2 linked regions of the Homo sapiens genome follow. The protein of the gene in region 2 interacts with the protein of the main gene of each other region in a biochemical or structural test. Each region holds a gene or a part of one and is shown on either strand. Other genes may lie near its edges.

Evidence for each region. Proteins that work in one complex are often made in the same cells at the same time.
Region 1: the proteins of SP7 (region 2) and NFIX form a complex in vitro, tested with the Homo sapiens proteins (one study listed by BioGRID).

Annotation. Positions count from the first base shown.
Region 1 is NC_000019.10:12,998,475-13,002,261, reverse strand, and holds part of NFIX (nuclear factor 1 X-type), read right to left. Parts: intron 1-3,787.
Region 2 is NC_000012.12:53,332,720-53,338,176, forward strand, and holds the start of SP7 (transcription factor Sp7), read right to left. Parts: upstream 3,636-5,457; 5' UTR 3,427-3,635; intron 3,058-3,426; exon of another isoform or gene 2,975-3,057; 5' UTR 2,928-2,974; coding exon 2,907-2,927; intron 1-2,906. UniProt on the Homo sapiens protein: Transcriptional activator essential for osteoblast differentiation. Binds to SP1 and EKLF consensus sequences and to other G/C-rich sequences.

The DNA.
Region 1 (3,787 bases), on a different chromosome or scaffold from region 2:
GAGGGAGAGAGGGAGCGGGAGGAGGGGAGGAGGGGAGGAGAGAGGGAGGAAAGAGAGAGAGAGAAAGGGGGAAAGAAGGGGGGACCTCAGTTTCCAAATCCGCGCCCTCAGAGCCTCGGAGGGATGGCGGGTGGCCCAGGGGTGTGGGGCCCAGGGCCTGCCTGGCTGTGGGGGCAGCGGGGATAGTGGGCTCAGGCCCACGGAGACAGCCGGACACCCAGCTGGCCAGGCTAGAACGGACACAGGCAGAAGCCAAGATCAATGTGCGCCGGGCAGACAGAGGGAGGCCTGTGGGCGGCCCGAACACACGCCCGCACCTCGCTGCCGCACAACGGGCTTCTGTCCACGCCAGGCCAGGGGCACGGGCGGGGCCCCCAGCAAGGCCACTGCGGCCGCTCAACCTCATGGGAAGGGACTGAGCAGCCAGCCCGCTCCCAGCCGCTTGCCCGGCCGCCATAGCAGGCATCTCACATGGTGCTCGGAGGCCAAGGGAATGCCCAGGAGAGGCGCCCGTGGGGTGAGACCCACAGTGATTGTCACGGGGACAAGCTCAGGAGGCACAGTGATATGAGGGTGATGACACTGGAGACACGTGCGTTGACACGTATGTGGACACAAGTTGACACGGACAGGCCAACACGTGTGTGAGACACACGGATACACTCTTTGCCGTGACGCACAGACACCCAGAAAAACACTGCTGTAGATGTGACGCATGTCGCTGGGACACTGTCACCCCAGATACAAAGCGCAGATACAAAGATGGTGACCGGTACACCAATACCCGTTGACGTGCGCAGCGCCACCGTGACACAGAGACTACATCCGGCACACTGACACGCATGGTGGCACGCTCCCCGACCCCCACTACCAAATACACAAGAGACAGGGCGTGCGATGATCCGTGGAGTCACATGCAGGTAGCACCCAGTGATGGACGCTGGGAGACATGGAGAGGCATGGAGAGGGACCCGGGCAGACACACGCTGCCACACAGACATCCTCGGGAAAATGGTGGCTCTGAGGCCTGACATGCCGATTAACATGCACACCGATCTGGGAGAACCCAGATAGTGGCTCACAGCTGTCCTCCTGGCCCACTTGCCCCCACATCCAGGGCTTTGGGGGCAAGAAAATTAAGACACCCCCCTCCTTTTCCCCACCCCAGCTGGGAGGGAGGGGACAGAAGGCCCATTCTCAGCACCGTGTTGGAGAAAGTGCCCAGCCTCCCCTACCTCTCTGGTCCAGCAAGTCCCCAGATTCCAGCTTCATGGGGGTGGGGGAGACAATATCTCAGCAGATTTAAAAGGCCAGGCTCCCTGTGGGTTAGATGGGGAGGACGGCAGTCAACACACCAACCACGGGGGCATTTTGCCCACAGCCACGGCGCCACGGCCAAACACCCAGCATTGCTCCCACCCGCAATGTGCCCTGATCCAGCCAAGTGCCCACCATAGGGTCCTGCACATATGTCCTGTCTCCATGGCGGGTCCAGGTGACAACGCCCAGGTGCAGACACAGAAAGTTCTGGAGCTTGGGGACGTCCCTGAAGTCATCATCTAGATGCACCGGGTCTCTTTGTCCCACATACATTTGGATGAATGCGTGCACACATACTCTTATACCAGGACTCAGGGCCCCCAACCAGGGTATCTGGTCCTCATGGAACAGTGGAGGCCTCGTCTCTCCCCTCCTGCCCCCCACTCTCCCCCACCATCTCTCCCCTATCTTGAAGTTGTGCCACCCTCTGCTTGGCCTACAGGCCCCCATCCAAAGGTAAAAGAGCTGGGCCATGTGCAAACTCTCATCCTTCCAAACTCTCCTCTTGCCTCCTCCTCCTCCAGGCAGTCCACTTGGATATCTATGGTTGGGAGGTGCTCGATCCTGTCTTCTACCCCTCAGAGGCATCCCTCTCTCAGCTGGGAGGGTCTGGGAGGTTGACAACCAACAATTGGCAACAATTACCATTTATGGAGCACACACTATGTGCCAGGCACCACATTGAACCTAAGTACAGCCCAAGAGATAGACACTGGTTTTTGCCCATTTTACAGGCCAGGAAAATCCTGTGCTTCAGGTCGCAAGATTAGAACATGTAGAGCTGGAGCTCGAACCCATTTCTGTCTGACGGCAAAGCCTAGCCCTTGACTCCGCTCCCGCAGCCTCCGTCTGGGAGCTCTTGAGGCTACACAAGACATTCCAGGCCCTAGAGAGACTGGAGCACCCTGTTCCCGGCAGAGCCCTCGGCTCTGAGCTCGGCCCAGCATCAAAACATCTCACGGAGCCCCAGCTCATCTCATGAGCTACCCCATCCCGGCCCACACCTGGGCACACCTCCCACCCCAGCAGTGGGCATGAATCAGGCAGGGCCAGAGCCGGAGAGAAAATGCCAAGTGCCATGAAAACAGGGCACCAGGCCGGAGCAGGGACAGAGAGCTATAGCTTCGCAGGGACAGAGGGGTGGCCAGAGTGACCCAGAGAGAAAGCTGGGGGAAGGGGGCATCAGGGAAGCCCCAGCCATCCCCCTCCCATGGAAGGAGTGTTGGGGGAGCTATGCAGATACAGAAGTACAGGAACGTTCGGCTGCTTGTATGGCCAGGAAAATGGGCGTAGGTCGCTGCGTGTCTGAGAGCGGGTGTATCCGTGTGTGCGGCCATGTATGTCTTTGTGTGTGTCAGCAAATGTCGGCATGTTTGCCTTTTTATCCCTGTGGCAAGGAGGGGGAAGCACGCATTGGTGCATATTTGTGTGTGTGTGTGTGTGTGTGTGTGTGTTTGAAAAGGTATTTGTGGCCGGGTGCAGTGGCTCATGCCTGTAATCCCAGCACTTTGGGAGGCCGAGGCAGGTGGATCACGAGGTCAGAAGTTCAAGACCAGCCGGGCCAAGATGGTGAAACCCCATCTTCACTAAAAAATACAGAAATTACCCGGGCGTGGTGGCGGGCACCTGTAATCCCAGCTACTCGGGAAGCTGAGGCAGAGAATTGCTTGAACCCGGGAGGCAGAGGTTACAGTGAGCCGAGATCACGCCACTGCACTCCAACCTGGGCGACAGAGCAAGGCTCCGTCTCAAAAAAAAAAAAAATAGAAAAAGAAAAGTTATTTGTGTACACACCTGAGCGAGCCAACTGCATTATGTCTCTGTGTAAAGATGTGTATCCATCCATCCGCCTGTCCGTCCTTGGGTCCATGTGAGCATGTGTGGGGGTGAACACACATTTGTGTCTACCTGTATCCAAGCATGTGCTCAGGGCTCCATGAGTCTGGGAGGTGTCGTGGTCTCCATGTGCCTTCGTCGCTATCTGTATCATCTCGAGGGGTTTGTGAGTGTTTATGTGTGCGCTGGGGGTGGTTGTGAACACAAGTCCACAGTTTCCTGTGTCCATACGTGCGTCAAAGAGGTACTGCTGTGTCGCTAAGCCTACACCAATATACGTGTCCCATTTCAAGAGGTGCGTGTGTGTTAATGGGTGTGTGTGACAGTGTGAACACAAGTCGTCGGTTTCCTGTGTCCGTAGGTCTGTAGGCTCGTCGATGGTCGTGGGTCTGGACATCGGTGTGAACAGGACACTTACATCCCCATCTTGGCGGTGATGGTGGTGTACGTGAGTTCACATCCTGGTTGTGTCTCTGTTTCTTGGCAGGGTTGGGATGGGGATGGGGGTCCATCCATCCACCCCCCACCCCTCTCTCCGCCTGAGACTCAGGACTGTGGCTACAATGGACTCCAGCAGCTCCAGGAACCGCCCCACCCGGCCGCCCTGAATTTCGATGCTTTTTCTAGAAGG
Region 2 (5,457 bases):
AAGGAGTGGAAAAAAGAAAAGGGGGAGGAGGAGGAAGAAGGCGGCCTTCCTACCTAAGAGAAAACCACCATGGTGCTGGGCCCCAGAAAACCCCCAGACCAGGCCACTCCTCCCTTCTTCTCCCCCCTGACCGCCCCCTCTCCCTCTGCCCAGCCCGGCTCCGATGGTTTCCCTGCGGTCGGTTTATTTTTAAAAACGCCGACGCCGTCCCCCGCCCGGCCCTCACACTGCGGCCACAGGGGCCTCAGCCAAGCCCAGGGACCCCACCCAGCTGTGGGGAGGGAAGGAGGGGTGAAAGAAGGCAGCCAGCCCCAGGCCAACAGGAGACCCCAGCCCTGGGGAGTGGAGGCCCAGAGGGCCCTCGAGGGCAGGGAATGGGGAGCGAGGAACCAGACCCACTCAGAATGCTCTGGGGGCTACAGGCTGAGCACGTGGCTAAGTTTCACCACAGCCTCAGTTTCCTTCTCTTGCTGATTGTTCTCTCCTGAGAACTTGGGGAAAGAGCACTGGTTAAGAGTTCTAAACATGTGTCCCCATACCTGATCAAATGTGTTCCCTTTCCAGGGCCCAGCAGTCCCACCTTCGAGTTGTTCCCTCCCGACCTCCACCCCACCACCCTTAAAACAAAACAAAACAAGACAAACAGAATTAAAGTATTGAAGTGGGAGTGTTTGGAAAAAGAACAAGATAGGAGCTGTCCCAACTCTCCCACCCAGATGTGGAGCAGGGGAGGGGGATCCCCTCCTCCCAGGGAGCTCATGGTGCAGTGCCCAGCCTGGCCTCCCAGCGGAAGTGCTCACTAGACATCTCAGGGCTGACTGGCCTTAGGTTTGGAGCAGTCAAGGTCCCATTTTCCAGTTCTCAACTTTCTCAGCCTTCTCCCAAGTTTCTTCGTTTTCCCAGCTTCCCAATTCTCCTTTCCCACCTAGGCCCCCAACAATTTCTTCCCCTTCCCTGTTCCCCTGAATCTCACTTGGCCGAGGTGAGCCCCCCATCAAGCAGCAGCTGCTTCCCACTGCCAGAGAGCCCACCCATACAAGGTGGAGGGCTTCCTGGGGAGGTGGGGAGGAAGTTGAGGGCCCAGGTACTCAAAAACTAGGTGCAAGTGGTCGAGGGACAGGAGGGACTGGTGTGCCTTCGTGTTGCAGGCATCTCCAGCTCACAGGAGTGAGGGGACATGAAAGTCTAGCTTCCACAACACTCTCCTTTCGCCATGCACTATCCCAATCCCATGTCTTTCCAGCAGGCCTCTGGGCCAGTCCCTCCCAAGCCACCAGCGCCACGTTGGCAACACTGGCATGATGCCCACGCCCACTGACACTGTCCCTGCCCTGGGTGGACCCAGGATTTCCATGCATCTTATTCCTCAAGACCACAGTGTTTCAATGATGGCTCAAAATAGAGTCTGTTGGGGAGGTGGCAGGATGACAGTCTGCTCCCATTGCAGCTACGGGTAGACCCCTGGCTGGATACAGAGTGTGACAAGGGACGTGGTGTCCATCTGGTTGGCTTGCATGCTATTCCCCCAAACTCAGCCACAAATTCACTATCTCACAGCCTTGTGCACACACCATTTATCACTTGGACTCACAGCACTCAGATGGCCCAACTTACACACACACACACACACACACACACACACACACACACACACACTCTCAGGGCCTGTGGCACCCTCGACTGCACCCTAACGATTACACTCAGGCCAATGAACACAGGTGTTAAAAGACTCCTGCCCCATCTCACAAACACACACCTCTCCCACAGGTTGAGTGAGTTGGCTTCCTGTTTGGCCCAGCACCCCTGGGCCTGAGCTAGGGCACTGGGAAGAGAGATGTGGGACCCAAGAATAGGGAAGAGTCAAGGCTACTGAAGGGGACTGACTTTCAGGGAGGGCCCTCTGGCCCTAAATTCCTGCAGAGAGACCCAGAAAGCAGGACAGAGATGGTGACAGAGGAACAGTGTCAGAGACCCAGAAGCAGGGAGGAATCTGGCCCTGAGTGGCTGTGAGCCCTGCCTTCCCAACTCTGTGCCTTGGGTCCCCCAGAAGCCAGAGTAGAGTCAGAAATTTCTCAAGACCCCAAACCCTGACCCCAGTGGTACCCCAATTCCCTTTGTCCCCAGCACCAGAGGCAAGGGATGCTGGGGTCCCAGCCCGGAGGGGAAGTGGCCCAGTCCGCCCTGGAGCCTCCCACTCCCAAAATAGAGCTGAGTTTGTCTTTGGCTGAAAGCTAAATATTTGTAAGCCGGGCAAGCGGCCTCAGACCCCGTCCCTCCTCCTTGGTTCCCTCACAGGCCTGGGCTCAGTTCCCCTGGTCAGCTCCCCCACAGGCACAGGCTGGCCTCCTCCTTTCTCTCATAGCCTACCTCCTCTCCTCCACACACCAGCTCACGGGCCCAGCCCCCTCCCCACAAAACCAGGCAAGATCCTGTCTGGGCTACGAGTCCCAGGAGACGGGACCCCTAAAGAGCTATACCCAGTTGCTGCTCTGTGCCCACTCAGCCAGTCCTCTCTGCCTTCTATCTCTTCTGCCAGCTTATGTATTTCCCACCCCTCTCTCCTCACTCCCCCTCGCCCCCCTCCCCCTCCTTTCTCCATCGCTTTTCCACTCCTCACAGTCAGTGTGCTTAGCTGACCTTAGGTAGGGGTCCATGCCTTCTTCTGACCTAATCCCCTCTCACCCTCTTTCCACTGCCCTCTGACCCCTGGCCCTATTCTTCCCTCCCTTTTCTCCTGCCCTCTGCTTCCCCTTTCTTGGACCCCACTCCTCTCTCCTCATCAGAAGGACCCCTGGAATTGACAAGCACCACAGCTACTATCTATGTGAGTTGGAGGAGGTGGGTGGGCAAGGACTAGGACCATTAAGGTTGTGGCTGGTTTCCTGGGGGGAAGAGGGGACAGTTACCTCAAGCAGGGAGGACGCCATCCTGAGGCTGGGGAACGGGTCCCAAGGAGCCAGGCAGATGGAGAGAGCTGAGCCGGGGGGTGGGGGGGGTAGAGAGAGAAAAGGGAGAGGGAGGGAGAATGGGAGAATGGGAGAGAAGAGATCTAAAGTTAGAAGGGACCGGGGTGGGGGGCTGCTCTCTGTCTGTAGGGATCCACCCTCTAATTACAGCTTTCCCAGCGGAGAAGGCTCCAGATCCAATGAGGAGGGCGAGAGAGGGAGGCAGAGGGTCCAAATTTCCTGCTCCATTTGCTGAGCTCCCCAAAGAAGGGATCAGGGAGGGAGAGGAGAAAAAGGGGCGCCCATGGAAGGGGTGGGAAGCAGGAAGAGGGGAGAGCAGCATGGGCAAGTTGTCAGGGCTTCCTCGGGGGGCTGCTGAGGGGAGAGGTTAAAGGGATGGTGGACCCCGGTGTCCTACACGCGGCAGCAGTCCCATAGGCATCTGTGGGCACCCCTCCCAGAGCTCCCCAGTGTCATGTACCTGGGGGAACCTGGGGCTGGCTGTCCCGAGTCTCTCCTCTCTGGAGGTCTGGCAGGGAGAGTGCAGGCAACGGGTGGCCTGAGGGTGCTGGGAGGGATCCGCTCTCTCCCAGGCCAGCTCCACTCCTGTTCCACTCAGGCTCCGGTCCTACAGTCCTACTCTGACTCCAGAGTCCTTGCTGCTGCTCGGCGGCTGCTGCTTCTGCTACTGCTGCTGCCTAGGCTGCTGCCGCCCGCCGCTGCTGAGGGAAGGAACAGGAGGGAAAAGGAACAAACCCCAAACCACTAATTAGAGATCCAGGGGGGGGATGGGGGGTTGGGGACGACACTCACACAGAGAGACTGGAACGCACTGACATACACACTCATGGCCAAACACAGGGGTGATGCATGCACACGTACACACAGTACCACTCACATGGGTACAGCCACTATCATGAATGAACACAGACGGACACACACAAATGCACACAGTGACGCACTGGAGGCACACGCACCACACCCGCCCCAGCTGACCATGGAGAGGCTTGCTTCCCCAGTCACCCACCTGCCTCTAGATCAGGAGAGCAGTGTGTATGTGCCCCTGTGTGTGTGTACGTGCCCGTGTGTGTGTGTGTGTGTGTATGTTGTGGGAAGAGGCATGGAAGGTTCTGAGGTGGAGGTTTCTGCTGCCTAAACTTTTAGTGTCACTGAGGTTGGTTCCAGAGCAAGGCCTGGAGGAAGGGTTGAAGAGTTGGGGAAGGCTTGGTATTGGCTTGGGGGTCCCTCAGTCTTCCTCCCAGTGCCTCAGTTTCACTGTTTGGAGGTGATACCTAGGCCTACCTCACTTTGTGGGGCAGAACCTGGATCTTCTGATGAAGAGAAAATTTAAGACAAGCAGGAGTGAGGGTGGCGGTAGAAGGTCATTGGGTCAACTCATTCATGCCGACACCTAACCTCTTTGGATTATTTCCCCCAAAAAGAAATGCCCTAACCTCCATATTCCTTGTCAGTTACCATCCCTGGGTAACCAAGTTACCATCTCTTAGAGACCATGGGTTTAATCTCCATCCTTTGGTGGACAGTTCTCCAGAGTGATCTGACTTTCCTGGGAACTCCTGGTTCCCTTTCTCATTGCCATGCATCAATTCCCTCTTCCACAGAAAGAACTGAAGTTAGAACTTAATAAGGACTTCCCAACAAAATAGGAAGTAAGAGAAGGAAGGGCAGCCAGGTTAGGAGGGAAACCCAAAAAGTCTATTACCTGAAACCTGGGCCATGGGCCCTGAGGTATTTATGGGAGAGAGGACTGGGCAGCTAAGTGGTGACACCGGCAGCTCTCCCACAGGGGGGCTTAGCCCGCTGGGGTTGTTTTACAGGTTATTCCTTAACACACACTTCTCCCCCTCCCAGCTCTCCCTGTCAGGGGAATAAAGCCCCATCCTTTCCACTCTCCTCACTCTGCAACACCATCCCCTCACTTTCTCGGAGTGCCCAATTCCTTGCTCCTTTTGCTCTCCCAGATCTCCAAAGAAAAAGCTGGGAGGTGGCAGGAGCAGATGGAGGTCCACGGAGGGTTGCACAGCAGTTTCGCCAGCAGGTAGGCACCAATTTCAGGGTAGGGCCCAGGAGTTCTGGATTCTAGCCCCATGATTTGATTTACCTCAAGGAACTCTGGGAACCCAAGGTTTAGGGGAAGGGTTTGGGAACCAGGTGGCTGATAGACAAAGAGAAAGCAGCAAAAGAAGAAACAGAGCAAATGAAAGAGTCCAAGACAATCAGAAGAGATATCACCAGGTATAAGAGAGAGGAAACAGGAAAACAGAAGACCAGATGTGTGGCTTTAAACAACAACAACAACAACAACAAAAAACAGAGCAGGAAAGAAACTAAAAAGATAAAGAAACAGGCCCAGAGGAACAAAGATGGGGAGACAATGGCTTGGGAAGGACAGAGAAAATAGCCTGAGGCATAGCCAGGTCCGGAGGAGGAGGAGGAGGAGGAGGAGGAGGAGGGTTGTGTTGCCAGGCAGGTGGGGGGGCGGGGAAGGAGT